5 linked regions of the Homo sapiens genome follow. The protein of the gene in region 5 interacts with the protein of the main gene of each other region in a pairwise test. Each region holds a gene or a part of one and is shown on either strand. Other genes may lie near its edges.

What was found.
Region 1: the proteins of TSTD2 (region 5) and SSX2IP interact in binary tests that used the Homo sapiens proteins (3 or more experiments, as listed by UniProt).
Region 2: the proteins of TSTD2 (region 5) and FLCN interact in a two-hybrid assay, tested with the Homo sapiens proteins (one large-scale study listed by BioGRID and IntAct).
Region 3: the proteins of TSTD2 (region 5) and DCC interact in a two-hybrid assay, tested with the Homo sapiens proteins (one large-scale study listed by BioGRID and IntAct).
Region 4: the proteins of TSTD2 (region 5) and MUTYH interact in a two-hybrid assay, tested with the Homo sapiens proteins (one large-scale study listed by BioGRID and IntAct).

The regions. Positions count from the first base shown.
Region 1 is NC_000001.11:84,657,951-84,664,174, forward strand, and holds part of SSX2IP (afadin- and alpha-actinin-binding protein), read right to left. Parts: intron 4,581-6,224; coding exon 4,505-4,580; intron 4,426-4,504; coding exon 4,248-4,425; intron 519-4,247; coding exon 368-518; intron 1-367. UniProt on the Homo sapiens protein: Belongs to an adhesion system, which plays a role in the organization of homotypic, interneuronal and heterotypic cell-cell adherens junctions (AJs).
Region 2 is NC_000017.11:17,222,974-17,227,507, forward strand, and holds part of FLCN (folliculin), read right to left. Parts: intron 3,350-4,534; coding exon 3,203-3,349; intron 1,539-3,202; coding exon of another isoform or gene 1,485-1,538; intron 1,171-1,484; coding exon 949-1,170; intron 1-948. UniProt on the Homo sapiens protein: Multi-functional protein, involved in both the cellular response to amino acid availability and in the regulation of glycolysis.
Region 3 is NC_000018.10:52,747,970-52,754,193, forward strand, and holds part of DCC (netrin receptor DCC), read left to right. Parts: intron 1-4,084; coding exon 4,085-4,405; intron 4,406-6,224. UniProt on the Homo sapiens protein: Receptor for netrin required for axon guidance. Mediates axon attraction of neuronal growth cones in the developing nervous system upon ligand binding. Its association with UNC5 proteins may trigger signaling for axon repulsion.
Region 4 is NC_000001.11:45,327,247-45,333,470, forward strand, and holds the end of MUTYH (adenine DNA glycosylase), read right to left. Parts: coding exon 6,167-6,224; intron 6,079-6,166; coding exon 6,039-6,078; intron 5,925-6,038; coding exon 5,851-5,924; intron 5,714-5,850; coding exon 5,672-5,713; intron 5,589-5,671; coding exon 5,517-5,588; intron 5,442-5,516; coding exon 5,328-5,441; intron 5,243-5,327; coding exon 5,145-5,242; intron 5,065-5,144; coding exon 4,920-5,064; intron 4,841-4,919; coding exon 4,777-4,840; intron 4,604-4,776; coding exon 4,415-4,603; intron 4,311-4,414; coding exon 4,174-4,310; intron 4,089-4,173; coding exon 3,936-4,088; intron 3,312-3,935; coding exon 3,270-3,311; intron 2,823-3,269; coding exon of another isoform or gene 2,820-2,822; exon of another isoform or gene 2,643-2,819; intron 2,192-2,642; coding exon 2,060-2,191; 3' UTR 1,996-2,059; downstream 1-1,995. Other genes in the region: HPDL (4-hydroxyphenylpyruvate dioxygenase-like protein), read left to right, coding at 1-1,018. UniProt on the Homo sapiens protein: Involved in oxidative DNA damage repair. Initiates repair of A*oxoG to C*G by removing the inappropriately paired adenine base from the DNA backbone. Possesses both adenine and 2-OH-A DNA glycosylase activities.
Region 5 is NC_000009.12:97,600,788-97,607,011, reverse strand, and holds part of TSTD2 (thiosulfate sulfurtransferase/rhodanese-like domain-containing protein 2), read left to right. Parts: intron 1-750; coding exon 751-869; intron 870-1,370; coding exon 1,371-1,529; intron 1,530-2,146; coding exon 2,147-2,285; intron 2,286-4,244; coding exon 4,245-4,543; 3' UTR 4,544-6,224.

The sequences.
Region 1 (6,224 bases), on a different chromosome or scaffold from region 5:
CAGCAAAACCCCATCTCTACTAAAAACACACCAAAAAATTAGCTGGCTATGATGTGCGCCTATAGTCCTAGCTGCTCAGCAGGCTGAGGCAGGAGAAATAACTTGAACCTGGGAGGCGGAGGTTACAGTGAGCCGAGATGGCACCACTACACTCTAGCCTGGGTGACCGAGCAAGGTTCTGTCTCAAAAAGTAAAATAAAATAAAATAAAATGAAAAAATAAATGTATGCAAAATCTTGCTTTCAAACCACCAAACTGAAGTATAGTACTTTAGCTCTGAGCCTATAATGCGGCTTTCTAAGTGACTAAAAATCAACACCTTACCAAATGTCACAACTCACTTTACATGCATAGAAGCAGTGGTTACCTTGGTTATCAAGCTTTTCTACATGACTTTTCAAAATTCTCCACTGTTTTCTGATGCTGTTTGTAAGCTGCTCTCTCACAGTTTCACAGGAAAGGTCCCACATACTCTCTCTGCTTAGTTCCCCGGCATCTTCTTCAACATCGGAAATAACCTACAAGCGGAGAGAGATGAAGAGGAAAGGCTAGTACCTTACAATGGCTTTAGATGCTCAGGCAAGTAGTCTTCAGTTTGATTACCAGAGGAAGCCACATCAAAATCATTTCTGTGCTGTGTCTTATGCATATATGGCCCAGTATTTAAATGTCTTGAGAAAAAAAATGAGACTCCTAAATTCAGCTCTCTCTAAACCTGAATTTGAATCCAAATACAGTTAATGACAAGAGTCATGAAGCTGTCTGAGAAGGAGATATCACTACCTGTCTAATGTGTTGGATGTTTTCACGTTATTTAACCCTCAGCTCATTACAATGTGGGAAAACCGAGGTTTAGAGAAGCAGCATTACAACTAAGAGGCAGAACTGATATTTGACATTAGATCAACTTGTTTCTAATCCTAGGCTGCTTAAAGAAATGCACTTGTGAAATAATCTCTGAAGTATTTAATAAAAGCAACTGTTAATTCTATTTTCCTCATATACTTTTTTATATAACGGGAGATACTTTTCTTTGTATTCTGCCAAACATGAAATCATAAAGAAGTAGCAAACTTTACTGATATATGATCACACAGAATCAAAGCAGGATAAAGAACATGGGGAAACAATACTAAAAGGGATATATGTCATAATAACCCACATCTACATAAAGTAGTTCTAATTTGTCATTAATATTCAGGAAGGCAGAGAGATATACTTCACTAATTTGAACAATAAAAATCTTGCTGGGGAAAAAAGAAAGATAAAAGATGAAAAGAAAGAAGGGCTGATTCGACTGCTCGCACATGGAGATCAGCAGGATGAGGGAGCAACTGAGTCTGAAGAACTCTATCAGTAGTTGAGGTCAGCAATGGGCTAGCAGAGGTCAGGGTCTCTGAGGCGGAGCAGACAGGGGAATGGCCCAGGATCCGGCTCATGGTGATTCTAGCCCCTGCCAATACTCAAAAGCTACTTGCCAGTAACTCTTCCAAGGAAGCACAGCTTCTCTTCTGAACATTTTAAAGCCTATTAGAATACTACCAATCTGTTAGAAAAATTATTGGCCGGGCGCGGTGGCTCATGCCTGTATGTAATCCCAGCACTTTGGGAGGCAGAGGTGGGTGGATCATGAGGTCAAGAGATCGAAACCATCCTGTCCAACATGGTGAAACCCTGTCTCTACTAAAAATACAAAAATTAGTTGGGCGTGGTGGTGCATGCCTGTACTTCCAGCTACTCAGGAGGCTGAGGCAGGAGAATCACTTGAACCCGGGAGGCAGAGGTTGCAGTGAGCTGAGATGTCACCACAGCACTCTAGCCTGGCGACAGAGTGAGACTCCATCTCAAAAAAAAAAAAAAGAAAGAAAAATGAATAATTATTGCACATTTCTCAGATTGAACAGAACTCTCTAACCACAAAATGAAAATAAAAAATTCGGCTGGGCACAGTGGCTCATGTCTGTAATCCCAACACTTTGTGAGGCCAAGGTGGGATGACTGTTTAAGCCCAGGAGTTCGAGACCAGCCTGGGCAACAAGACCCTGCCTCTAAAAAACCAAAAAACAAAACAACAAACTCATTTTACCTGAATTTTCGGTATATGTTTTACAAGTAAGTAGGTCAAATAATAAATGAAATGTGGATGCTACCTAGGCATTCCAACATTACATCTTATTTCTCTTGCTATAATGCTTCAAAAATCTTTCCCTACAAAAATTAAAGAGAAAAGGGAGCTAGAAAAATGGATCTTTTAAAACTAGAATATATATTTAAGAGGTCATTGTTCATCCACTTAAACATGTGAATTATGAAGAATTATACAGGATACTACCCACTGGCTGAGTAATGGGGGTGAGGAGGGTTTAATCACTGAAGAAAGATCTCCCTGACTTACCACATACTTTTGCTAACTGAAATCTGATGATGAGACGTTAAGGTTGGACCAAAAACTGAAGATGCTGCAGTAGTAATGGACACTATGCTAACCTTGAAGAAGTATTAGTGAATGCTAAGAACTGACTAGAAGTGACAGAGTTTGAGATAAGAGGTTAACTACATATAAGAGGTCAAGCAGGCCTCAAAATGGAGAATGTAAAAGATATTCGGGAATTTGAGACCAGCCTGACCAACATGGAGAAACCCCGTCTCTACTAAAAATACAAAATTGGCCGTGGGTGGTGGTGCATGCCTGTAATCCCAGCTACTCTGGAGGCTGAGGCAGGAGAATTGCTTGAACCCGAGAGGCAGAGATTGCAGTGAGGTGAGATGGTGCCACTGGACTCCAGCCTGGGCAACAAGAGCAAAACTCTCTCTCAAAAAGGCCAGACGCAGTGGCTGACGCCTGTAATCCTAGCACTTTGGGAGGCTGAGGCAGGCGGATCACGAGGTCAGGAGATTGAGACCATCCTGGCTAACATGGTAAAACCCCGTCTCTACTAAAATACAAAAAAAAAAAAAAAAAAAAAATTAGCCGGGCATGGTGGCGGCTGCCTATAGTCCCAGCTACTCAGGAGGTTGAGGCAGAGGAATCACTTGAACTCGGGAGGCAGAGGTTGCAGCGAGTCGAGATTGTGCCACTGCGCTCCAGCCTGGCAACAGAGCAAGACTCCGTCTCTTAAAAAAAAAAAAAAAAAAAAAATTTAGGTAATTTTTTTTTTTAAATGTTAAGGAGAAAAAAAGGTAAGTGCTGGGATGGGCTTATCAGCTGGACTGATTTGTGATACCACAAAATAAATAATCCTCAAATACAGGTTTAAAAAACAAGTTCTGGTATCTTGCTGTTAACTAGCATTTTCCATCAACATTATTTTCAGATTTTTATCACTAATGTGAACTTGCTGAAACCTACGATTTTAACTTATACGTAAAGCAATTAAGTAAAATGAACTTTTCACCATTATGTGATTTTTTTTTCAGATCTCTGCATATATTACTCCCATTCTCTGGAATGCTTTCTCCATGTTTTTTTTTTTAACCTCAAAAATACTTATTTTCTAAGAAGCAGTGAAAATGTCACTTTCTCTGTGATGCCTTGATTGCCATAACTATTCTGTTCTGCACATTGTACCACCTTATTACAGCACCTAACACATGTAATAATCACTTCTCCACGTCTGTCTTTCCCAAAAAGAGCTTCTTGAGGGAAAAAGTCAAAATCTTTTTAGCCTTTCCTTTCCAGAGACTAGAACATAAAGAACACCCAATAAATTTATATTTGTTTCCCAAAGTTAACAGAAGTTTCACTCTGTGAAAAGTAGAGTACATAATACTAAAACAACTGAAAGGATATTTGACATAGTGGTTATGATTGTGAGCTCTGGAGTGAGAAACTTGGATTCAAATCCTAGCACTGTCATGTGTGATACTGGGCTACTAAATATTATGCCTTAGTTTCCTTATCTATAAAATGGGGATATTTATAGTATCTAAATCATCAAATTATAATATATGAAATAATCTCATATGTTATGAGGAATATTATAAAATGAGACAATGCTTATAAAGCACTTCTTAACAGTGCTTGACATGTATTAATTCCCCGGAAAATCATCTCCAGCATTTTTCAGGAAATGTCTGAAAACACATAGGAACAGTCTTTTCAGTTGTCACAGTAATTGAAAGTAGCATAGCAGTTGAGTGTCCTATTCAAAATACCAATAGTGTCCCCATTGAGAATGCCTACCACATATTTTAATTATTCTTATTAGCAATCTGAAGACTGTATTAGAGAGGAAAGAGCCACTTACAGTTCCTGTACTATCATCTACTCTTTCTCTAGGTTTCTTCTTTTGGGGAGAAAGAAGAGAAATCATTTCCTTTTTCATTTGTTGAAGAACCTTCTTAAGTTCTGCATTTTCCATTAGGATTTGTTTCTGACGATATTCATAATCATTCAAGAGAATTTTATACATTTCATCTTCATTCCTGAGAAAGAAACTGTCAGTATGAAAATGCAGGATAGAAGGAAGTCTGATTACATTTATCAATTTAAACTGGACTTTACCTGGCTTCAGTTTTACCAGTCCTCCAGGAGCCTCTTTTTCCATCAGCTCTCCCGACATAATTCAAAATGTCCATAGCTACAAACATGAACACATAAAATTAATTCTTACCATACATGCTTAAGCATCTAAAACTCTAATGCATTCTATACACGTAAGTGGTGAAAGTGAACCTGGTATATAGGTTAGGATTTGGGCTTAAACAGCCTAATTTTCGAGTTTCTAGTTCCACCACTTGTAAGCAATGAGATCTCGGCACATTATTTAACTGCTTAGCCTGTTTCTTCTTGGACACTGGGAATAACAAAAGTATCTACCAAAGAGTTGTTGAGAAGACAAAGAAATAACTATTAAAGCACCCAACACAGTAGAGTGAACACAGTATCTGGCGCACAGTAAGTACTTAATAAATGTTACCTTATCATTATTAATTTCATTATCAGGGTTGCCTGATAATGGCCCACAGGCTGGCTGCCTGATTTTGTAAATAAAGCTTTATGGGAACACAGCCACATCTACTTGTTTATATACTGCCTATGGCTACTTTTCTTGTTACAATGGCAGAGATAAGTAGGTGCAACAAATAAGTTGTAGATCCCATAAAGCTGAAAATGTTTACTATATGGATCTATACAGAAAAAGTTTGCCATGTCCTGTTAACATTAACATCATCATTTTCATCAAAGGAGTCAAAGCCCCTGATAGTAGTAATATCTTCTGCTGCAGGTGGACATGGAAACATTTGGCGTAAAAAGGAAAAAGAGTAAATTATTATAATCTTAGAGTTAATAAAATCATTATGAAACTGTCACTTCCGATTGGACCAGGAAACAGCCAGACCGCTATAATGGAAGAGCTCTGTTTCCAGAACTAAATCCTTAATAAACTTCTCTGTGTTACACTTTATACTTTCAGCATTTCATCCTGCTTTTTAATTTTTTTCCTTCATGAATGAATATGAGGCTAACTAAACTTAAAAACCAATGATTCTCCAAATGAGTAAGATTAACTCAGGATACCTAAAGATTTCCAATCTTAACGGCGCATTACTGAATCTTCATTTCTATTTTTCAACAATTTAAAAAATAAAGTATTCAGATACCTCCAACAGCTCTGCTGCAGAATGACAGTGATGTAGTCAACACTAAACTGCTTGCTGACAGCAGGCAGAGTCTACCACATGACAGCCTGAAACGTACGCTCATCGCCTGTTTTTCAAATCTAAGGTAAGACAGTTTAGGGGTGTCACGGTATAATGTATGTTAGAGGACTACCTATAGTCACTAGGAAACCACTCTTCAATAAATAAATACACACACTTCTTGTGCCTCGTATTTATACCAGGCCAGCAAAACTGTATTGTAAAGCTCTACTTTCGTGTTTCTTTGCTTTTTAATTTACACTATCTACTTGAAATTATCCACATATTTGGATGAAATGGCTTAAAGTTTTGAAAAAGACTACTATTAGGAAAAAAGTATACCTTAGACACACACACGCCTAACTTTTATAGTCCATCCTTTTGACTAGCTGCTCCAAAAATGTACAGCTAAACTTATTTAAAGGAACTCAAACTGACATGAACGATTTGGTCTGATGAAAAATTTTATGAGGTTTACTCTAAAATACTTCTTTTGATACTCAGAAACTGACACTGATTTTTAATATTATCAGTTCTTTGCTATGGAAAATTAGAATGTCCTCTGGCTTAGTTTTCCTCTA
Region 2 (4,534 bases), on a different chromosome or scaffold from region 5:
TCCCCTTCTGGGTGCACTACTTGGCTAAGGCACACGTGACTGGCTCTGGTCAATGAGCTGAGACAAACAAGGCCCTCAGCACCATCTGTGCTTCTGGAGGGCAGAAGGAGCAACATTTTTTCCTTTCTTTTTTTTTTTGAGATGGAGTCTCACTCTGTCGCCCAGGCTGGAGTGCAATGGTGTGATCTCGGCTCACTACAACCTCTGCCTCATGGGTTCAAGCGTTTCTCCTGCCTCAGCCTCCCAAGTAGCTGGGATTACAGGCATGCACCACCATGCCCAGCTAATTTTGTATTTCTGGAAGAGACGGGGTTTCTCCATGTTGGTCAAGCTGGTCTCAAACTCCCGACCTCAGGTGATCTGCCCGCCTTGGCCTCCCAAAGTGCTGGGATTACAGGCGTGAGCCACTGCGCCCAGCCTAGGGGAAGCATTTTCATATGGCTGCCGCTCTGCCTGCCAGGACGACCACAGCAAGCAGAGCCCCACTCTCCTGCAATGCACACACCATGAGTAAGAAACAGGCCCTATGGCTTGAAGGTGCTGAGATCCGAGGCTGTTACCAGAGCACGACCTGGCCTGGCCTGGCCTGAGCTGCATCTCCACAGCTGGAGGCCTACATTCGGTGGTGCAACTCAATGGGATTAACAGACATCCCTGAGATGAAGGCCAGAGGAAACAAAGACACCAGGGGTCTGACTGCAGCAAAGAAACCAGAGCTGAGCGAGAACCAGGACAACGGGCACAAGAGAGACCAGCAAAGCAGGCGGGATGGCCTGGGAGGCTCCTCACGACCTCCAGCTCTGAAGCCAAGAGACTACAATTCACACAGTGCACTGGCTGTAAGCAGAGGGGAAGACGCCACGCGGTCTCCAGGCCTCAACCTCAGCACAGAGCGGCTCATGCAGTGCAGGGCCCCCTGCCGCCCCGGCACCTCATCTCTGAATTCACCTTGAGCGCCTTGCCCTGGAGCTCATCGATGATTCCCCGGACCTTCCCCAGCAGGAAGGGCCAGGAGTTGATGAGGTAGATCCGGTCCATCATGATGGTGATGATGCTGTACCAGCGCTGGAAGCCCCTGGCCAGGCTGTCCTTGATGAAGAAGGTGTGGCTGAACACAAAGCCGTGCTGCTCATCTCCGAAGAAGATGGGGCCTTCACGGCCAGGGCAGACCTGGAGGGACACCGGCGACTCAGACAGCCCTTTCCTCGCTTAGTGACACCAAATCAAAGCCTCTTCTTCAGACTTTTCAGAGTCAGCTGGCACAAATCAGCCAGCGTTAATAACGGGGAGAGTGGCACAGTGGGGGCCATGAGAGCCGAAGACTGTACTCTTCTGCTCCTGTGATCAAGCTTCCAACAACACTTGTCATTGTGGACTGCAAGGGCCGGTAACAAGGCTTATTGCTTTTCTTCCACCTTGAGCCATAAATAACTCCCATGCATATGTCACACCTCTCCCAGACTCAAATGTACCAGCTTACTCACCTGGAGCATGCAGAAGAACCAGCAGGTCAGAGCAGCCACTGCACTCTCCCTGCACTGAAATCCGCACATTTTATTCTTTCTTTCTTTCTTTATTTGAGATGGAGTCTCGCTCTTGTCACCCAGGCTGGAATGCAGTGGTGTGATCCTGGCCCACTGCAACCTCCGTCTCCTGGGTTCAAGCAATTCTCCTGCCTCAGCCTCCTGAGTAGCTGGGATTGTAAGAGTGTGCCACCACGCCTGGCTAATTTTTTTGTATTTTTTTTAGAGAGGGGGTTTCACCATGTTGGCCAGGCTGGTCTCGAACTCCTGACCTCAGGTGATCTGCCGGCCTTGGCCTCCCAAAGGGCTGGGATTACAGGAGTGGGCCACCATGCCCAGCCCCACGTACTTTATTCTTATAAGAGGATTTCAGTCCCTCCTCATTACATACTTACTCTTCCTTAACACACAATTCTAACAGACATGCCGAGCTGCCTGCTAGCAGACCAGCGGTAGGAAATTAAAAGGAGAGGACAGTTGAGGGCAGGCACACAGCCACACTGAATGAGAACAGTAAGGGAGCTTGGTGTGTCGAACTGGGTGGACACCAATGACAAGGAAGTTTAGTAACTGAACGACGAATTCTTTGTAACAAAGACCTGAGCTCAGAGTCAAGAGCAACAGCAGCAGCGACGTAGTTTAGGAAGAAATCATCCACACCTCAGCAGGCTGAGAGCAGCACGGGATCATCACTGAGACTTGGAATGAGGACTGAGATAATAAAAAAAGGTGATGTTGATGCAATGAACCACCTAACCTAGAAATGCTTCCTATCTTAGGAATACATCCATCAAGAATAGACACACATGGCTGGGCATGGCGGCTCACACCTGTAATCCTAGTGCTTTGGGAGGATGAGCCAGAGGATTGCTTGAGTTCGAGACCAACCTGGGCAACATACTGAGACCTCATCTCTACAAAAAAATTTTAAAAAGGTGGGGCACAGTGGCTCCCACCTGTAATCCCAGCACTTCGGGAGGCCGAGGCGGGCAAATCACAAGGTCAGGAGTTCAAGACCAGCTCGGCCAACATGGTGAAATCTCTTCTCTACTAAAAATACAAAAAATTAGCCGGGCATGGTGGCACACGCCTGTTGTCCCAGCTACTCAGGATAGCTGAGACAGAAGAATCACTTAAACCCAGGGTGGAGGTTGCAGTAAGCCGAGATTGCACCACTGCACTCCAGCCTGGGCAACCGAGTGAGACTCTGTCTTAACAACAACAAAAAACAAACCCCAGTTGAGCATGGTGGCACACACCAGTGGTCCCAGCCACCTGGGAGGCTAAGGCGGGAGGATCGCTTGAGCCCAGGAGTTTGAGGTTGCAGTGAACCATGACGGCACCACTGCACTCCAGTCTGGACGACAGAGCGAGACCCTGACACAAAAGAAGGAAAAAAGAAAACAATAATAATAAAGAAAGGACAAATAATAAAAGTTCGGTGCTTAAAGTGCAAAAGCTAGCACTCAATCAGAAAATGCTCAGCAAGTCCAACATGACTCCTCCCGCAATTCTGGACAAGGGAGGCGTCCTGTACCCTGTGCTGTGCTGATCTGCGGGTCCGCCCTGAGAGAGGACCAGTGCCTGCCTCCCTGTGCAATGCTGGCTCCGAGCCCACCCAGAGCACCTGGGAGCATGTGGGCTCCCACAGAGACAGGCTCTGTGGCCACAAGGCTCACCTCACAGCTCAGGCTCCGGACACAGGCCTGGCGGACAATGCTGAAGAGCTGGGGGTGGCTGGGGTGCTGGTGGCTGACGTATTTAATGGAGGTCTCTTTATCATGGCTGATATATCCCGGGTGCCCTGCAGCAAGTGACCGGCAGCCCTGTCCATGAAAAGGAAAAGTAAATCTGTTAGTTGGGAAGCAGGGCGACAAACTCTCTTAGGTTTATGCAAATCTGAGCTCGGAAAACTCAAGCTATTTTTGTAAAAAAATAATTGGCTTCCAGATTTATACTTATCTGAAGATTTAAATGTTTCCTAAAGAGGAAAACAGAACACAGAGATCGCAGAGATTGCCAGAGGTTGTTCCTAACAGGTATTTGCTGAGCACTTACGAAGTAGGTAACATGAAAAGGGCCCTGCATGCTCCATCTCATTCAATCCCAAGTGCCACCCTCTGAGATAATGTCAGTGAGAAGCCCCATTCTACAGAAGACAAAACTGAGGCTGAAGTGAGAAGTAGCTGGCCCGAGGGTGAGGGGCTCTGTGGTGGTAACACTACCCACTGCCCCCAGCCTCCATCATTGGTTCTGAACTAACACCTGGAAGGGGCTTCAGCCACAGGCGAGAGGCCCAATAAATAGGGCGAGCACCAAGCTCCAGGATGTTGGTGTGGCAGCTCACCACTGCTGCCCCGCTGCCCCGCTGCAGCCACAGCCACTCCGATGCTGAGGCTGTGCGCCCTGGAGCTGCTCCTACCCCAGGACTGTGCGGCAGTGCGTCAGCAAGACTCTCCCCACAGTGTCGCAGGATTCCTCCATGGGCAACCCCAAAACCAGCTCAAGGATGCCCCAGCAGCCTGGCGGTGCCCTCCTTCCCAGGTCTGAGGTGCTCCCCATCCCCCATTCCTTACAGGCAATTCCAGCAATGGATGCAGCTCTTACACGTCCTCTGCTTCTGCAGCAGAACCAAAAGAACAAGCTTGGGTTCCCGTTTGCACTGCAGTGGCAGGTCCAACACCCACCCCTGATTTTGGGCCCTGACCCAGGTCCTCCACAAAAACAAGTGGCCCACTGGGGAAAACTCACACTAATTCCCGAGAGTTCAAGAGCTGATGGAGTGACCCACCGAGAACACTGGGGGTCCTGGGAGCAGGAAACTCCACTGGGAGCACGGGACTTTGGGGACCCGCCTCCAGGACAGGCTGGAGTGTGTGAATACAAACATGAAGGCCACGGCAGGGAGGCAGAGTGGGTTAAAGAAGTTAACATAGGCTGGGTGTGGTGGCTCACGCCTGTAATCTCAGCACTTTGGGAGGCCGAGGCAGGTGGATCACCTGAGGTCACGA
Region 3 (6,224 bases), on a different chromosome or scaffold from region 5:
CACTGGGTTCCGAGCTGGCCGCTGAGCTGGTTCTGCCCACTCAGTCTGACAGGCTGCGGTCGGCTCGTGCTACGACCCCTGATCCCACGCCCACCATAGGCGTGCCAGGCATGGAGCGGTGAGGGGTGTGTGAGTGAGTGAGTGCGGAATCCAGCCACCACCGCACAGAGCCAGGTGCGCCAGCTGCTGCAGTGCGGCAGGCAGCTTTAGGTGCCGGCACAGGCGCTGGTTCCCTGTGAGGCGGCAGCTGGACCAGGCATACTGCAAGCAAATTCTGCCTTCGATGCTGGTGTCTGGACTGGGGGAACACGGTGACACCCAAAAAACTTAGAGACGCCAACAACCACAGAGCCCCAAAAGGGTGTTACAGCATGTCACCGTTTGTTTGTTCCCGTAGCCCAGCAAACAAGGGTGTGTCAGAGCTCTGGCTCCGGGAGTCCCAAGGTCTGCACCTCCAGAAGGGTTGCAGCTCTTCTCTCCTTCCTGCCATATGCAGCACAGTGAACGGGGCAAGGGGTGGGCAGGAGTGTGTTTCGGCTCCTTTGTGTTACAGCTCATTCAGTCCTGCTGCACTACTCTGGCCCACAGCTCTTGGGCTGGCCCGGCCCCACTGCAGCTTCTTGTCGTCTTGGGTGGCCACTCGGGCAGCAGTGGAGGGCTGGAGGGCTACAGTGTTACAGCTCCTTTTGCACCTGATGTTCAATGGGTCCCAGGTTCTTGTCCTGCATCCAAGAAGAATGAGGTTGCTTGGATAACTGGAGAGTGAGCAAGGTGGAGAAAAGTTTTACTGAGTGACAGAACATCTCTGGGCGGAGAGGCGATCTGCAGTGGGTAGTCCCCAGGTGTGGCTGAGTCTGGAGTTTTTATAGGCTCAGAATGTGGGAGGTGCAGCCTGTAGGTAGCCATGGAAAAGGCAATATTTGATTGGTTAAAAAGCATTATTCAGGCTGGACCCATTGGCTCATGCCTGTAATCTCAGCACTTCGGGAGGCTGAGGCAGGTGGAACAACTGAGGTCAGGAGTTTGAGACCAGCCTGGCCAAATATGGCCAACATGGCCATCTCTACTAAAAATACAAAAATTAGCCAGGTGTGGTGGCGCATGCCTGTAATCCCAGTTACTGGGGAAGCTGAGGCAGGAGAGTCACCTGAGGCGGAGGTTGCAGTGAGCCAAGATCGCATCACTGCACTCCAGCCTGGGAGACAGAGCCAGACTCCATCGCCCAAAAAAAAGAAAAAAAAAAGAATTATTCAGAAAGAACCAATCAGGAAAGAACAGGCAAACAGGAACAGAAGTTCTCACTCTGGTCACAGACTCCATTCAGAACCAGCAGCCCAGTTTTCAGGCTTTAGGCTTTTTTCGGCTTGAAGGTTGGGTTTCACTGGGGACCCACCCCTGTCTGCCTGGGAATTTGTCTGCCTCCTGCCACTGTCACTAACATGAGCTGAAACTTAGAAAAGGAGACCAATAGAATCATATCTACTATTTCTCAATTAACTTGATTCACCAGGATCCATCTTTTCTATAAAACTAATCACTAATGCAAGTTACTTAAAGCAGTGAGGTGCCTATATCCCAAAGCCATATATTCAAAATATAATTGTTATAAAGAGTACAAAAAGCTCAAATTGCCATTGAACTGCAAGGGTAATTGTGTTAAAGTTGATCTATGTACTCACAGCACTGAAAACTGTCATAATCTCCTTGTTTCAGACTAAGTGGATTATTTATGTGTGATAATGGGCACATATGCTCATTAACATGCTGTCATAAACAGCTGTGTTAAATGTATTATGTGTTCTGTGACATAAATAAGGTGCTTAACATGAGGTTGTGTTTAAAATATAGGCCCCAGGAAGAACAAAAAAGCAATACATGCTTTCTAATATAGTTGCCTGCTCTTGAATTTCAAATTTATTTCTTCTTTATTAATGCTACTTGTATGGAAATTGTGGGTATTACTCTAGCGAAATATCTTGGCATTCAAGGACATTAGAACTTCTTTCTGCTGTCTCATCCTTAGTGTTTCTCAAGCCAGGTTTGCTAGCTTGTGTTTCTTTTCTGGTAGAGGAAGAGATCACGTAGACATGGGAAAGGTATTTTCAGCAAAATCAGCCTTAAGTGATTCAGCAAGCTTAGAGCAGGGTTCATTTGACAGATGCTCTCAATTCAATCTTGTTCTAAAAGCCTCCAAACTAGATGTTGAACTTAGAGATCATCTAGTTCAACTTCTTAATTTTTGCAGATGAAGGAACTGAGTTTCTGAGGGCTTAAAAGACCTTTCTGAGTCATGAATTTTGAAGTGATAAAACCAAGACCTAAGGCTAGATATCCAGACAGCCAATTCAATGTACTTCCCACTAGAAGAACAGGATGTACTATAATTGGGTTGACTACACCAAAAGGATCTGTGGGGAGAAGGAGCTTATTTGAAAATAAAGACACCAGGCTGCTGTCATCTGGGATCTTTATCAATATCCATCTATAATAGAGTTATGTGCTCACCATTATTTTACAATTTATATTAATTCAAGCAAAGTTCCAGATGCTTTCTGAGTGAGTGGCCAAGGTGAAAGGAATGAATATATGACAGTGAGCGACACAAGACATCATTGGGCAGAATAACAGACTTCAAACGTAAGTTTTAGAAAAATTGAGTATGCAGGAACGAAGCAAATAAAACCAGGGAGAAACCGTAAGAAGCTGTTCTGCTTTCTCTTCACTGTAAAATGGGGTGTACAAAGATAGAAATAGTTCTGTCCATCAGGACCAGTATGAGTTAACCCCTTATGAGAATATGGATTACCTGCAATTTAGATGCCTGCCTTTTAAATGACAGAAGATTGGAATGATTTTACAAAGTACAACGAAAAGTGTTCCCATTACAGAAAAATGAAGGAAGCTAATGAAGTCAAGGTTGCTATCGTGGAAAAAAAAAATGAAGACTAAAACATAATTTAGGTGGTATTTTTTAAGAAATGAAATGCCATTTCAAACAAATAAAGGGCTCTTAAAGAAAATGTCCATCTCTTCTGCATTTTCACACAAGGTGTTTCAGGAGAAAATGGGATTAAACATCAGCAAGAAAATTCAGTTAGACTCTTAAAATGATTAAATATTGAAAACAAGATACCGAGGGACATTGTAGAATCTCTAGCCCCAAAGATTGTTCAAAATGAAATTGAAAGTAATTTGACTTGAATGATTTAAGTATACACCTGTCTGAGCAAATGGTGGAGCCAATGACCTCCTGAAACCTTGTCAAGGTCTTTGACTCAACATGTGAGTATTCTGTCAAATGCTATACTGCCAGCTTCAAAAACAATATACTTTAACTGATTATACTTGCTTCCTCCCCTCAAGATTCTTAAATGAATTTCTATTACCCTTGGTTGATTCTTTATGTTCATTTACGTTTATGAAACAAATTCAACTGTAATATTTATTTAGATTTCCAAGCCCATGAGAAACATTTGGATGAAAATTAAGACCCTTCAGGGATTTGTGATTTTAGGTAGTAGCTTTATTGACTTGCTTCTGCCAGTGGGATTTACCTATTTTAAAACCCACCTGAGCTTTGTCCTAAATAACTTTGCCCATGCTGTTCAGAGTTGACTTTTATTCTTATAGAACCCTGTATCAGATTGGATTTTTTAAAAATTTCAATGGATGCCATAATCAGAATGAAGAGATAGAAATAGTCTCCCCAAAAGTCTTAGCTACCACACTAATAACTATTGCTACTTTAAAATATCTAATTTTATTTGGAAAATATTAGTTTTTTCTGTCTAAATTTTCATGTACTGACTGATATGTGGTAATAAGCATGCCAGGATTTATATGAATTTGTAATTTCTCATAATATTAACTTTTGGAGCCAATTGTTTTCTTAATTATGATTACCTCGACTGGGTACTTTTTTGCTTATTTAACATAATATCCTTGATTTTAGTTTTTATTTATTCTTGGACATTGTTCAAAGCCCTCAGCTTTTGTGAAAAGCTTTGTAAAGAAAAGACAGGGAATCTAAGCCTGAGATTTATTTGAATACATGAACATATTTCCCTGTGCTCTCTTGTTCCAGGTTTTCAAATTAAAGCTTTCACAGCACTGCGCTTCCTCTCAGAACCTTCTGATGCCGTCACAATGCGGGGAGGAAATGTCCTCCTCGACTGCTCCGCGGAGTCCGACCGAGGAGTTCCAGTGATCAAGTGGAAGAAAGATGGCATTCATCTGGCCTTGGGAATGGATGAAAGGAAGCAGCAACTTTCAAATGGGTCTCTGCTGATACAAAACATACTTCATTCCAGACACCACAAGCCAGATGAGGGACTTTACCAATGTGAGGCATCTTTAGGAGATTCTGGCTCAATTATTAGTCGGACAGCAAAAGTTGCAGTAGCAGGTAGGTGGATTCTTCCTTCTCTTCCTCCTCCTCCTTCCTCTCTTCTTCTTATTCATTTTTGGGGATGAGAAAATAATTTTTGTAGAAATAATGTACATTTTAAAAATCTTTTAAATTTTAAGTTGACAAGTAATTATATATTTTTATGAAGTACAATGTCATGTTTTGATGTATGTATACATCGTGGAGTGATTATATCAAGCTAATTAACATATCTGTCACCACATACTTCTCTCTTTTCTGTGGTGAGAACATTTAAAATCTACTCTTTTAGCAATTTTGATATATACGTTGCTGTGCAATAGATATTAAAAGCTTATTTCTTCTCTCTCACTGAAACCTTGTGCCCTTTGACAAACATCTTTCCATTCCTTACCACGCCCCATCTTCCCAAGCCTCTGGTAACCATTCTGCTCTCTAGTTCTATGAGTCTGACTTTTTTATAATAGATTCTACCTGTAAGTGAGATCATGCAGTATTTTTCTTTCAGTGCCTGGCATGTTTCCCTTAGCATAATATCCTGTAGGTTCATCTATGTTATCACAAATAACAGGATTTACTCTTTTTAAAGGCTGAATAGTATTCCATTGTGTGTGTGTATGTATATCATATATACACACACACACATATATATATATATCTCATATTTTCTTTACCCATTCGTGATTGATTCCACATCTTGGCTGTTGTGAATAATGCTGCAATTAACATGGAGTATAGATATCTCTTATATACCCTCATTTCAATTCCTTTGGATATATACCCATAAGTAGGATTGTTGTATCATATGGTAATTCTAATTTTAGTTTTTTGAGAAAGCTACATAACCATTTTTCATAATGGCTATCTAATTTACATTTTCACCAACAACGCACATTTTTAAGAAAAAGGAAAGATGTAAAAAGATTCATGTTTATTCTGTCATGGATTTGACTGACCTTTCTCCTTAAATTATCTTAGAAAACAGTCATAGGACCTCAACTGGCTGCGTAAAGTTATGAGATTATTTTTTTAAACAAAACTGTTTCAAGTTGACTTACTACTTATATCTAAGGGAGGACTTCTCATTAACAGAAAAATATTAGAAAATATAATTTGCTAATTTTACTTTACAGCTTCATTAAATGCTAAACTTTTGCAGAGTCCATTTTTTTGTTGTGGGGCCTTAAGAAGAGTAAATTTTATTTTAATTATAGTGGCATGGCCTACAACATATACATGTCAAGTAAGAAATAAAAATTCCTTCTAGTGCTTCCAAATTTCTTAACGCTTGGTAACATGTTGGCTCAACAGCTGAGTAATAAGATGAACAGTTTTTGTTTTCACCTGGATACACTGAAGTCATGTAGACTCTGAAAAAATGGTACTGACCATTCTGGAACCCATGATATTGCTATTTCTGCCCCACTCTTCTGGTTAGAAGGCAGCTCATAATTATTTCTGTTGGCCCCTGAAATGTTAGACCTGCAAAGTGAAGAATCAGTTTTTTTACTTGTTTCTATAAAGATTTGACCAAAACCTGTCTTTTTTTTTAACTTTTATATTGACCATAAAGCAAGGCAAGCAGATTGAACTTGAAATAAATTTAAGTTATGAATGGGTAAGCAGATTTGAAGGGCTGCTTTCAACGTAATCTTTAGTTCTCAATAAAAACAATATTGAATCATAGGCTGTTTAGTCATTTGTTATGGGTTTTCTTTCCCAGGTCCTACTTAGTCTAGTCTCATCTTGGAAGACTGATCAGAATAACTCATTTTCATCAATAACAGGACAATTGGGCAGAATCACCACTCCTTCATGCACTCTCCTAGTGAGGGTC
Region 4 (6,224 bases), on a different chromosome or scaffold from region 5:
CCTGGCTTCGCGGGAGGTGGACGGCTGGCGGCAGCTAGCCCTGCGCAGCGGCGACGCGGTCTTTTTGGTGAACGAGGGCGCAGGGTCTGGAGAGCCGCTGTACGGCCTGGATCCGCGTCACGCCGTGCCCAGCGCCACAAACCTGTGCTTCGACGTGGCGGACGCCGGCGCTGCAACCCGGGAGCTGGCAGCGCTGGGCTGCAGCGTGCCTGTCCCTCCCGTTCGCGTGCGGGACGCGCAGGGTGCCGCCACTTACGCCGTGGTCAGCTCGCCTGCCGGCATCCTCAGCCTGACCTTGCTGGAGCGCGCTGGCTACCGCGGACCCTTCCTACCCGGCTTCAGGCCCGTGTCCTCTGCGCCTGGCCCCGGGTGGGTCAGCCGCGTGGACCACCTGACCTTGGCCTGCACCCCCGGCAGCTCCCCCACACTTTTGCGCTGGTTCCACGACTGCCTGGGCTTTTGCCACTTGCCGCTGAGCCCAGGTGAGGATCCCGAGCTGGGCCTCGAAATGACAGCAGGGTTTGGGCTTGGGGGACTGAGGCTTACAGCCCTGCAGGCCCAGCCGGGCAGCATTGTCCCCACTCTTGTTCTGGCTGAGTCCCTTCCGGGGGCGACGACACGACAGGACCAGGTGGAGCAGTTCCTGGCCCGGCACAAGGGGCCAGGCCTGCAGCACGTGGGGCTGTATACGCCTAACATTGTGGAGGCCACTGAGGGGGTGGCAACTGCTGGAGGCCAGTTCCTGGCTCCCCCTGGGGCATACTACCAGCAGCCAGGAAAGGAGAGGCAGATCCGAGCTGCAGGGCACGAGCCTCATCTGCTTGCTCGACAGGGGATCCTGCTAGATGGTGATAAAGGCAAGTTTCTGCTTCAGGTCTTCACCAAGTCCCTTTTTACTGAGGACACTTTCTTCCTGGAGCTGATTCAGAGGCAGGGGGCCACTGGCTTTGGTCAGGGCAACATCAGAGCTCTGTGGCAGTCCGTACAGGAGCAATCTGCCAGGAGCCAGGAAGCCTAAGGATGCCCAGGGCTGGGTGCAGCCAGCTGTCCTGCAGCTCTGGGGAGACCAGCACAGAACTGAGGAACATCTGCAGGAGGCCCAACTAGTGAAAGGCTTTGCCTCCGGGGGGCAGGTGTGACTTCCATTTCATCAGTGCCTGCCAGAAGCTGTGTCTCTCATTGGGCTCCAAAGAGGTGGGATTTTTTAAAACTAAAACATTTCTTATATACAGTCTATAATAAATATGTAAGATACAAAGAACAATAAAAGAATTACACACTAGGAAATAGAACATAACCAATACTTTCGAGTCCTCCCTGTGTCCCGCTGTGATTCTATTTCCTCCCACCCACTCCTCAAATCCTGTCATTATTAGCCCTTTGCTTTTCTGTATTGTTTCACTCCGTATGTAACATAACCCTAAATAAATTATTTCGTATTTGAGGTAGGAATTTAAAACAGAACAAATCTTCTCCTGTGCTTCCTCTCCCCCTAGGGAGCGACCACTCAGGTGGGGAGGGGCTGGGTGAGAGTTGAGCCCAACTACCTACTCCAGAGTGATGCCACCACTCCAATTAGAGCTGACCTGAGACGTAAACAGAGGGTGTTGTGTGTCAGCCACTGGCAGGTTCTCCCTGTAGCTGCCTTGCCTTTCTCCTGGGGGTTGGAGGGCAGATCAGTCTGGACAGAACACCCCCACTCCAACCCCATCTGCCCGGGGCTGGCTGGGAGTTCAGCCAGAGAAAGTCAGAACCAAGCAGAACGTCACCACTTTTCTGGGTCCCTCCCTCAGATATAAGGGGTGAGGGGGCTAGGGAGAGGGTGGAAGGCTGTCCAAAATAGCTACAAAAGGGCGGGCGTGGTGGCTCATGCCTGTAATCCAAGCACTTTAGGAGGCTGAAGTGGGAGAATCACTTGAGGCCAGAATCACCTGAGTTCGAAACCAGTCTGAGCAACATAGCGAGACCCCCATCTCAAAAAAATACAACATAAAATAACTACAAAAATAAGCACTTTACTAACAACAGGATTCTCAGGGAATGGGGGCTTTCAGAGGTGTCACTGGGCTGCACTGTTGAGGCTGTGTGCATCAGTGGAGATGTGAGACCGAAAGAAATTATCCAGGACTTGCTGGCCCATGCGGGGCTTTTTCCGACTGCACGGAGAGGACACCTGGGACCTTTTGGAACCCTGTGAAAAAATGGAAGGAGGGAGGCCTTGTAGTTGGGGGAGGGGGAGCAGAGAATCCTCTCCTTGTCCTCTCTCCCTTTCCCCGACTCTACTGATCTAGCTAGGCTTAGCCTGGAATGCTGTAGAGCTTTCATCCTGCCTCAAGTATCTGCCCCATCAATCAACCCTCCAAAAGGCTGCCTGAGGGAATCGAATTGTCCTAAAAATGCAAATCTGACTCCTCTCTCCTCCACCTAAAATGAGTCAGCAGCCTAGGGCTCACACCCTGACTGACCCAGCAGGCCCTGCTGACCTTTCCAGCTAAACCAACTGCTCACAGCTCCTTGAGCACTGCAGCCTGCACTGGGCTCCACCTTTGCTCACACTACTCTTGGGACTGGAAAGAACATCGCTACGGTTGATTCCCCTCCCAAACCTGAAGAAAAGGATTCATTTCTAGGACGAAGATTACCAGCTGCTTCCTCCAAACAGCCTTTCCTGATCCGTCTCCCAATTAGAACTGATAGCTCCCATGGATGGGTGTGGTGGCTCACGCCTGTAATCCCAGCACTTTGGGAGGCCAAGATGGGCAGATCACTTGAGGTCAGGAGTTCGAGACCAGCCTAGTCAACATGGTGAAACCCTGTCTCTACTAAAAATACAAAAATTAGTTGGGTGTGGTAGCAGGCACCTGTAATCCCAGCTACTTGGGAGACTGAGGCAGGAGAATCGCTTTAATCCAGTTGTGGGAGATTGCAGTGAGCCGAGATCGGGCCACTGCACTCTAGCTTGGGTGACAGTGAGACTGTCTCAAAAAAAAAAAAAAAAAAAAAAAAGAACTGATGGCTCCACAATTCATATCCCACAAAACTCAGTACAGGCATTTCACACACCTGTGACACTGGAGAGTCCTCATCATTTTTTTCCTTTCCCTCTACCCTGCACCCCACAATGGAAGGTCTCCAGGTCAAGAACTATTCCTCCCTCCAGTGAAGCCTGGAGTGGAGAATGTTCACCCAGACATTCGTTAGTTAACTGACTAAAAACCTATGGACTCAGGCCTGGGGAGACACGGTTGGGAGAGGCCTAGGAGACTTACCATACAGGTCCCTGGCTGTTGGCCCTGATACACACGGAAAACCTAGACAAGAAGACAGGGAGGTGAGGGCTGGCACTTTTTGCAAAAGAGATAAACCGGTGTTCTGCCCTTAACTTCATGTCCCAGTACTTTTGTTTAAAATATGCTTTTTTGGCCAGGCATGGTGGCTCACGCCTATAATCCCAGCATTTTGGGAGGCCAAGTCGGGTGGATCACTTGAGGCCAGGAGTTTGAGACCAGCCTGGCCAACATGGTGAAACCCCATCTCTAAAAATACAAAAAATCATGGCTGGGTGTGGTAGCTCACACCTGTAATCCCAGCATTCTGGGAGGCTGAGGCGGGCGGATCACTTGAGGTCAAGAGTTGGAGACCAGCCTGGCCAGCATGGTGAAACCTCATCTCTACTAAAAATACAAAAATTAGCCAGGCATGGTGGCGGGCGCCTGTAATCCGAGCTACTCAGGAAGCTGAGGCAGGAGAATCACTTGAACCCGGGAGATGGAGGTTGCAGTCAACCGAGATAGCGCCATTGCACTCCAGCCTGGGCAACAGAGCGATTCTCCGTCTCAAAAAAAAATGCTTTTTTTCCTGTTTACACAGTAATATATTCATGTAGAACATGTAGGAAACACAAGGAAGTACAACAAAGACAACAAAGGTAGTGCCTTTTTCATGGCGGTGGAAACAGCTGCGGTGTGAAATTCCTCCTGCGTCAGCCAGCGAGCACCTGGTGGTACGGTGGTCACTGGGGTCTGCCCTTCCAAGGCCAGCCCATATACTTGATATGTCAGCTTGATGTGAGAGAAGGTGTGGACAACCTGGAGGAAGGGTCAAGGGGTTCAAATAGGCCTGTGGATATAGCCTCAAAAGCCAACATCCTTGGCTATTCCGCTGCTCACTTACCTCCCCAAGGTGCCGGAGGTGCGTGGCTGGGAGGGGCCCAGCCCAACGCTGTAGTTCCTGCAGCAGGGCCTTGCGCTGAAGCTGCTCTGAGGGCTCCCAGGTCACGGACGGGAACTCCCACAGTCCTGCCAGCAGACCTGAGAGGGAGGGCAGCCAGGCAGGGGTCAGGCCTCAGCTGCCGATTCCCTCCATTCTCTCTTGTTACTCATGCCACTGCCCTCCACGCCCAGTATCCAGGTACCTGAGTTGGGCCTCTGCACCAGCAGAATTTGGGCCCCAAGGGCCCCAGGCTGTTCCAGAACACAGGTGGCAGAGCTCTCCTCCCTGGGGGGCTTGCGGCTGGCCTTTCTGGGGAAGTTGACCACTCCCAGGGTCTGGTCCCAGGGCTCCGAGGGAGGCAGGCACAGGTGGCACTGTCCAGTGTTGGGAGCTGGGAACGGAGATCCCCGAACCCTACTCAAGCCAAGAGGGCTTTAGGGGCCAACCTAGAGAGTGGGCTTTGGCCGGGTTCTGCAGAATCTTACTCAGGTTAGAGGAAGAACTGGAATGGGGCTTCTGACTGGGCCAGGAAGGGTTGGGGTGGGGGCTAGGTTTGGTGCTCACCACACTCCTCCACGTCAGGACTGCCCGACAGGCTCCCTGAGGCTAAGAGCTGTTCCTGCTCCACCTGAGAGGCACAGGGTTGAGTGTCATAGGGCAGAGTCACTCCTTAGGACTTCTCACTGCCCCTTCCCCAGTAGGCTTACTCTCTGGCGTGCCCGGCACAGGCTCTCCACAGGGCACTGGCTGCACAGTGGGCGCTGTGGGGTACACACTGTGGCCCCTAGCTCCATGGCTGCTTGGTTGAAATCTCCTGGCCGGGCTGGGTCCACCAGCTGCTGGGCTAGACCCCTAAAAGAAGGGAACACTGCTGTGAAGCAGAGCTCCTTTGCAGACACCCCTGAAGCACCCTTGTTACCCCAACATCCTACCAGAGCTGCTGGGAAACAAGGGTGCTGCTGGGATCAGCACCAATGGCTCGGACACGGCACAGCACCCGTGCTACGTTGCCATCCACCACACCGGTTGCCTGGCACAGAGGGGCCAAAGAGTTAGCCTGGGCTGGGAGGAAGGAGGCTGGGCACGCACAAAGTGGGGGTGGGCTGTGAGATCACCTGGCCAAAGGCGATAGAGGCAATGGCCCCAGCTGTGTAGCGCCCCACGCCAGGCAGGAGCTGCTGCAGGGTCTCTGCTGTACGTGGCATGTGGCCCCCTAGCTCCTCTACCACCTGATTGGAGTGCAAGACTCAAGATTATAAGACACCCAAGACTCCTGGGTTCCTACCCTCCTGCCATCCCCTTACCTTCCGAGCTCCCTCCTGCAGCCGCCGGCCACGAGAATAGTAGCCCAGGCCAGCCCAGAGTTGATTCACCTCCTGTGGGTAGGATCAGAGGTCAAAGAGATCACCCGTCAGTCCCTCTATTGTTCCTATTTCCCCTACCCTAGGGTGGCTCTCACCTCCAGGGAAGCACTGGCCAGGTCCTGCAGTGTAGGCCACTTCTATAGCCACAGGCAGGCAGAAAGAGACAAGGTCAAGGGTGAAGGTGGTAGAGGAAGCCTTCTCTACACCCACCCCAAAGTAGAGGCTCTCATCTGGGGTCTGACCCATGACCCTTCCCTTCCTCCCCTGGAGTCACCTGCATCCATCCGGTATAGTAGTTGATCACAGTGGCAACCTGGGTCTGCTGCAGCATGACCTCTGAGACCCACACTGGGGGAAAGGGGTTGGCATGAGGACACTGCTGACCTGCCCCTACCTGGCCCACAGCCCCCAGACCCAAGGGCCTCGAGGCAAAGTGGCCCTGCTCTCAGGAGATGTACTGACCAGCATATGCCCGCCTGTCCAGGTCCATCTCATCTTCTGCCTGTCAATGCAACCCCAGATGAGGAGTTAGGGTGGAGGGGGCTGGGTGCCTGCCTCCCACCCACTGTCCCTGCTCCTCGCCTGCCTACCCGTCTTCTCCATGGTAGGTCCCGTTTCTCTTGGTCGTACCAGCTTAGCAGGCTCCCT
Region 5 (6,224 bases):
TAAATTTTTTTTAGAGACAGAGTCTCGCTATGTTCCCCAGGCTTCCCCTTGTATTTTAATACTTACCCATCTTCTAGCTTTCCTGTCTTTTTCTCTCCTTTACTTTCTTTCTCATATGTCGTTTCTGTTGTCCACCCCTCTTGCCCTTTTCTCTTTTACTCATGCACACACACTTAGACACATTCTTCTTGCTCCTTTGCATTAAAAATGTATCTATTCCAACTTTATTCCATAACTTTTTGCTCACACCTGCCTGTGGGTTCTTAGCCTTCAACGTGGGTTCGACCTTAATATAGAACAGTTTACAAAGCCTGTAGTCAGCCACGTACTTGCCCAGCTCCTCCATGTACAGTGACAATAGAGCAGTGGCCATTTCCTGACCTACCAGTGACCATACAATGGACCAGCAAATTCACATGGCAATTTAGATCCCAGTTGCCTGGTTTTTATCACTAGGGTTAGGCCAAGTATGAGGATGCAAAATTCTTTGACTAGTTATTTCTAAACTACCAGGTCTCCATTGCCCTCATTTTAGGAGGAGGGAGATTGAGGATACCTGGAATTACTGGAATTACTAAGTTATTTCATCATGATCATCAAGTAGTGTTCTTTTCAGACAGTTGTAATTATGAAGAGAAGAGATTTGGGTGGAAAGAAACAAAGCAACACGTAAGTCAGGCTGGGTGAGTCATGATTGGGTTTTGGTTTTTTTGTCTTTGTTTTAATATAATTTTTTTGGTTTGGTTTTAGGAATCCATTTATCCCCAGGTGAATTTCATAAAGAAGTAGAAAAGTTTTTATCTCAGGCAAATCAAGAACAAAGTGATACTATCCTTCTTGATTGCAGAAACTTCTATGAAAGCAAAATAGTAAGTAAAAGCCAGAACTGAGTTCTCTGAATTGGTAGATCTCCCCATTCCCACAGTGTGGTATATTTCCCAAGGGGACCTTGTGTGTGCCCACCTGTGGCCACATGGATCTCCTCCCAGTACTGGCAGCTTCAGAGAAAACCCAAGTCCTAAAACTCAGAAATCTGGTGAGAGAGTCTAAGAAAATATGAATTAAAGGCATCCAGGCACATAATATACTTTGTGACTCCCATGAGCCTGCCTTTGACATGTATCAAGGATCTTGCAAAGTTGCCTTTGGGCAGCCTCTCCAGTTCCCCTGAGGACCCTGGGAAGGTGACCCACAGCCCACAGCCTCGGTTTTAAGTTGAGATCTTGAAGTTGAAAGGTCAGAGTGGGGATGAGATTAGCAACTGGCAGGGGCTTCTTTGCTAAGTAGGGTTTGTTGGGTACAAAAAGAACCTTTGTTCCTACCAGGTATGTTTTTCTGATAATTTTCCTTTTGTTGCTCCTATGTTACAGGGACGATTCCAAGGCTGCTTAGCCCCAGACATCAGGAAATTCAGTTACTTCCCTAGCTACGTTGACAAAAATCTAGAACTTTTCAGAGAGAAGAGAGTGCTGATGTACTGTACCGGGGGCATCCGCTGTGAGCGGGGTTCAGCCTACCTCAAAGCCAAGGTGAGCCACCACCCCGGGGCACTGTGGGCATGGCAGTGAAGGAGGCAGCTCCACCAGCAGCTTACGTGGAGCTGTCCGCTGCCCCCAGTACTCCCCACCCCCAGGCAGCCAAAGCATGCCTTCACCCCTCGTATGGCTCCAGCATGGAGTTCGTAAGTACAAAATCTGAGGGTCTTTAATCTCAAGATATGAAAAACACTTAACAGTCATAGAGACTCATCAGATGTAAAAGGGAGAGATTAGTTAACATCTCCCTTTTCCTGATCCTTTTGCTTGATCCTGAGAAGAGCAAATTCAGTAACATTACATGTCCCAACAGGTGTCTTCCTATATTTAGGGGGCAGCAAAAATAGTTGGGCTTCCCAGGATCTAGAGGGTGAAGGCCCTGCCTGCTGTCATCACCCATCCCCCTAGGAGGCAAGATCTGGCCAGTTGGTGCCTTGACCCCTTGGTCAGCAATTCCTCAGTGTCCCGCAGTGGGAGCCAGGAGCCCCTGACTGATAGCAGCGGCCATGAGTCCTCTACGTCAGCACTCCTCGCCATGCGCCGTTCTTCCGTGAGCATCTTAACAGGTCTCTGCTGGCTCTTCAGATTTCCTGTTGTTTTTCCACACCTAGGGAGTGTGCAAGGAGGTGTTCCAGCTCAAGGGTGGCATCCACAAGTACCTGGAAGAGTTTCCTGATGGCTTTTACAAAGGGAAGTTGTTTGTTTTTGATGAACGCTATGCTCTGTCCTACAACAGTGATGTGGTGTCAGGTAGGTCAGCACAGGCTCAGAGCCCAAACTGAAATGAAGCACATTGTCAGTTCACTATTCTAGAAAAATGACACAGGGAAGACAGGCCAGTGCTCATTACTGAGCACTGAATAAGCAGGGAAAATAAGTACATTGTGCCACCATTTTCCCAGCTGTGGAGCTGAGAGAACCCTAGCCCAGGAGTCAGGAGGCCTGGGTTGGGATCCTGGCTTCACCATTGCTAGCTGGACAAGCCCATTAACATGGGGATCATCTCACCTGCCCTGCCTGCCTGTCTACCTGCCAAGAGCTGTACTACTGGGCTAATTCAGGGCTCTTAACCTGGAATTGGTACATAGATTTCAGGGATTCTGTGAATTTGGATGGAAAAATAATTGTATCTTTGTTTTCAATAACACCTCACTAAAATGAAGCATTTCCTTTAGTTATGAATGTAGGCAACAAAGTACCAGTTGTATTAATGTACCTGTGACTTTGTCTTCAGTAGGATTCACAATACTTTCATATCATGTTCTAGTTGCCTCAGATATCTCAAAATAGTATTTATACTCATCACTGCTTCAAAATGAAAATAGTTATTAGGCCCACCACTAAGAGTTGATATATAATGTGTTAATAAATGGCACGTCTTATTATATATTACAGATTTTGAAAAAGACTTTGATATTTTGTATTTCTGTATAGTTGGTTTCCTTTGTAATCTTACATATTTTATGCATTTAAAAATATTTTTCTAGGTCAGGCACAGAGGCTCATGCCTGTAATCCCATCACTTTTGGAGGCCAAGGTAGGAGGATCACTTGAGCCCTGGAGTTTGAGACCAGTCTGGGCAACATAGCTCACTATGTCTCTACAAAAACTTTTTTAAATTAGCTGAGCATGGTGGTGTGTACCAGATACTCAGGAGGCTGAGGCAGGAGGATTGCTTGAGCCCGGGAGGTTGAGGTTGCAGTGAGTTTAAATCATGCCACTGTACTCCAGCCTGGGTGACACAGCAAGACCCTGTCTCAAAAAAGTTTTTCTAGGCCAGGATCTATAGTCTTCACCAGACTACCAAGTAAATCCGTAGCACACATGATTTTAGGAACTCATAGCTCTCTGTGGACCCAGGTGGCATGCACATTTGAGTAAGATTTGCGTTTGATTGTCCTCTCCTACTTTCTTGGTCTTATTTTCATTTTAGTGGTTTTGAGTTGTCTCTTATTGATCACTACTTCGATCTGTTTTGGAGCTAGATGGAGTATAAATTCTAAACAAGTAGAAAGAGTAGATTTGATTTTACAGAGGTTATATTGGCTGGACTCGATGGGTACCTGCGTGTGAGTATGAAGGAGAGAGGGAAGGCTCAGAGGTAGCTTAGATAAGCAAGGTAAGGAAAAGTGAGGAAGAATGATGTTATCAATAGTAACAGGAGGTCATCAGGGAAAAACAGGTGAAGAAGATGGTGTGAGTTTTAGGAATCAGATGGTCAAGTGCCCTAGCAACAGCAGGAGAGACACAGGCCTCGGGGAGAGGGGTGTGGACTGCGCATGTTCACTGTAGGTGGGTTATCGCCTGTATTTAGGTGTGTTGTCCCCCCTGGAAAAGGGAACAATCAAAGAGGAAAAGACCACTTAACAAGGGGGTTGGGAGGTAGTTGGCCAGCTTTGGAATAGCTGGTGAGAGAGAGAAACTTTCATTACCATCTAGTTACCACCTGTTCTCTAGATGGGAAAAAGAAAAAAAAAGTCAGTAAATACTGGAAGCAGACAGTTACCAGAAGTCACCCCCACAAAAAAATAAGCTGGGTGGTGGGGGTGGTGGTTAGTTGTTGTTGCTAGAAGACAGAAGACTTACTATTTGGAAACCTTCCCCGGGTTCCACAGGATCTACGAGATTCTAGTCAGCAAAGGGAGCAATGCCTGTCCACGTGTGTGTGAATGTATGTGTTTATAATGATGGCTTTTCCTTCCTCCCCAGAGTGTTCATACTGTGGAGCCCGCTGGGACCAGTATAAACTCTGCTCTACTCCCCAGTGCCGCCAGCTCGTTTTGACCTGCCCTGCCTGTCAAGGACAAGGATTCACAGCCTGTTGTGTCACATGTCAAGACAAGGGGAGCAGGAAAGTTTCAGGCCCTATGCAAGACAGCTTTAAAGAGGAATGCGAGTGCACAGCCCGACGGCCACGCATACCTAGGGAACTCTTGCAGCATGTGCGACAGCCTGTGAGCCCAGAGCCAGGGCCTGATGCTGATGAGGATGGGCCAGTGCTTATGTGAGCAGCACCTTTGGCATTTTCCCAGGCCCTCGGTAAAAGTAGGTTTGGGGTGACTATACAGAGAAAGCATGGCAAGACTGCAGAAACAGAGAAATCGGGAACTTCAGTTCTGGCCGCTGCCACCGTGGCAGCCGTCTACACTTCACAGCGGGAGGGGAGGAGTCACGTTGTCTACCACTTACCTGAGACATTCTGATTTGGATGATGCTAGAGCACAGAAAATAGGTGAGCTGCATGGGATCCCAAAGCTGCTGAGGGATAGAGCCTGAGCCTGGTGGCCACAGCATATGCCCTTTCTGTTCCATGCAGCTGGGGCTGTTAGTAGTCATTGCCCTTGTCAGCAGACCTTCTACCCTGGTGGCAAACACATGAAAGCTGTGGCCCTGGGAGTGGCCTCCTAAAACAAGCCACTTAGGTCATCTGCCATCTACCCTTAACCTCTGTCTCTCGCCTGAGGGGAATCTGCAAGCTGTGCATTGGGCTTACCTCCTGCTTTTGTAGAAATAACCATCCTTTGGTATACATGGAGGATAGTTCCAGAACGCCTGAGTATACAAAAACCCAATGCATACTCAAGTCCCACAGTGGGCCCTACAGAACCCACGTATGTGATAAATCAGCCCTCCATGTACGCAGGTTTCGCCCCCTGCCAATACTGTATTTTCAACCTGTATGGTTGAAAAAAATCCATATATAAGTGCAGCCATGCAGTTCAAACCCATATTGTTCAAGGGTCAACTGTATAGTTTATTGAACAGCCACACCCATTCCTTTACACATGATCTATGGCAGAGTTGAATAGTTGCAACAGACACTATGTGGCCTGCAAAATCGGAAATTTTTACTGTCTGGCCTTTTACAGAAAAGTTTGCCAGCCCCTGATCTAGACCAGCAGCTCATCTGATAGAGGCAGAGGTGGCCTTAAAGATGTGGCCTTCTTCATTTTCTGTTGGTTTGGTTTCGTTTCTATGAGAGATTTCCTCTGATAGCTCTGCTTTCCCCAGCACTTACTCTCTGAGCTTTTAAATGTTCTCTCTGGGAGCTTCATATAAGCTCGGTGACATTTGAGCCACAGTTTTTAGATCAGCACCTGGAATACATGACACATTCTTACTGAGGTCATCCAGCACTGCCATGGTGGCTGCCCAGTCTTCTGGCCAGTGTGCCAGGCACATGTCCCTGTCACACAGGTTCCAAGAAACACATACGCAGCCATGCATAGACCAACAGATTTAATATTATATTGCAGTTTTCAGCGATGCAGAATGCAGCTGCAATTGTGTTTTAAGGAGAAGCCAAATGGGGATGGTTGTCCCTGCAACATGGTGCCACTCCTGGGCCATGTGCAGCCTCAGTGGACACTCTTCCATAGCGCTGAGGCCCTGGCCCCGCCTCCAGTTACCCTGTACTGCCCACTGCCTTACAGTTCAGTGCGCAGGCCTTCACCTTTTCATCACCAGCCTCTCTGCTCAGTGCTCTGGAGTTCTTGACCTTGTCCTTTATCATGAGATTTGCTGAAATCACTAATGAAAATAACTCCCAAAAGCAACAAACAAAAATATTAGTTTAACTGGCACTGTGGTATATTAAAAGGCACAAGGGCATTGTGGCTTAACACTTTTGCTGGATCCCAAGAGACGCACATGATGTTAAAAAGAGATCTGGCAGCAGTACTAATACTA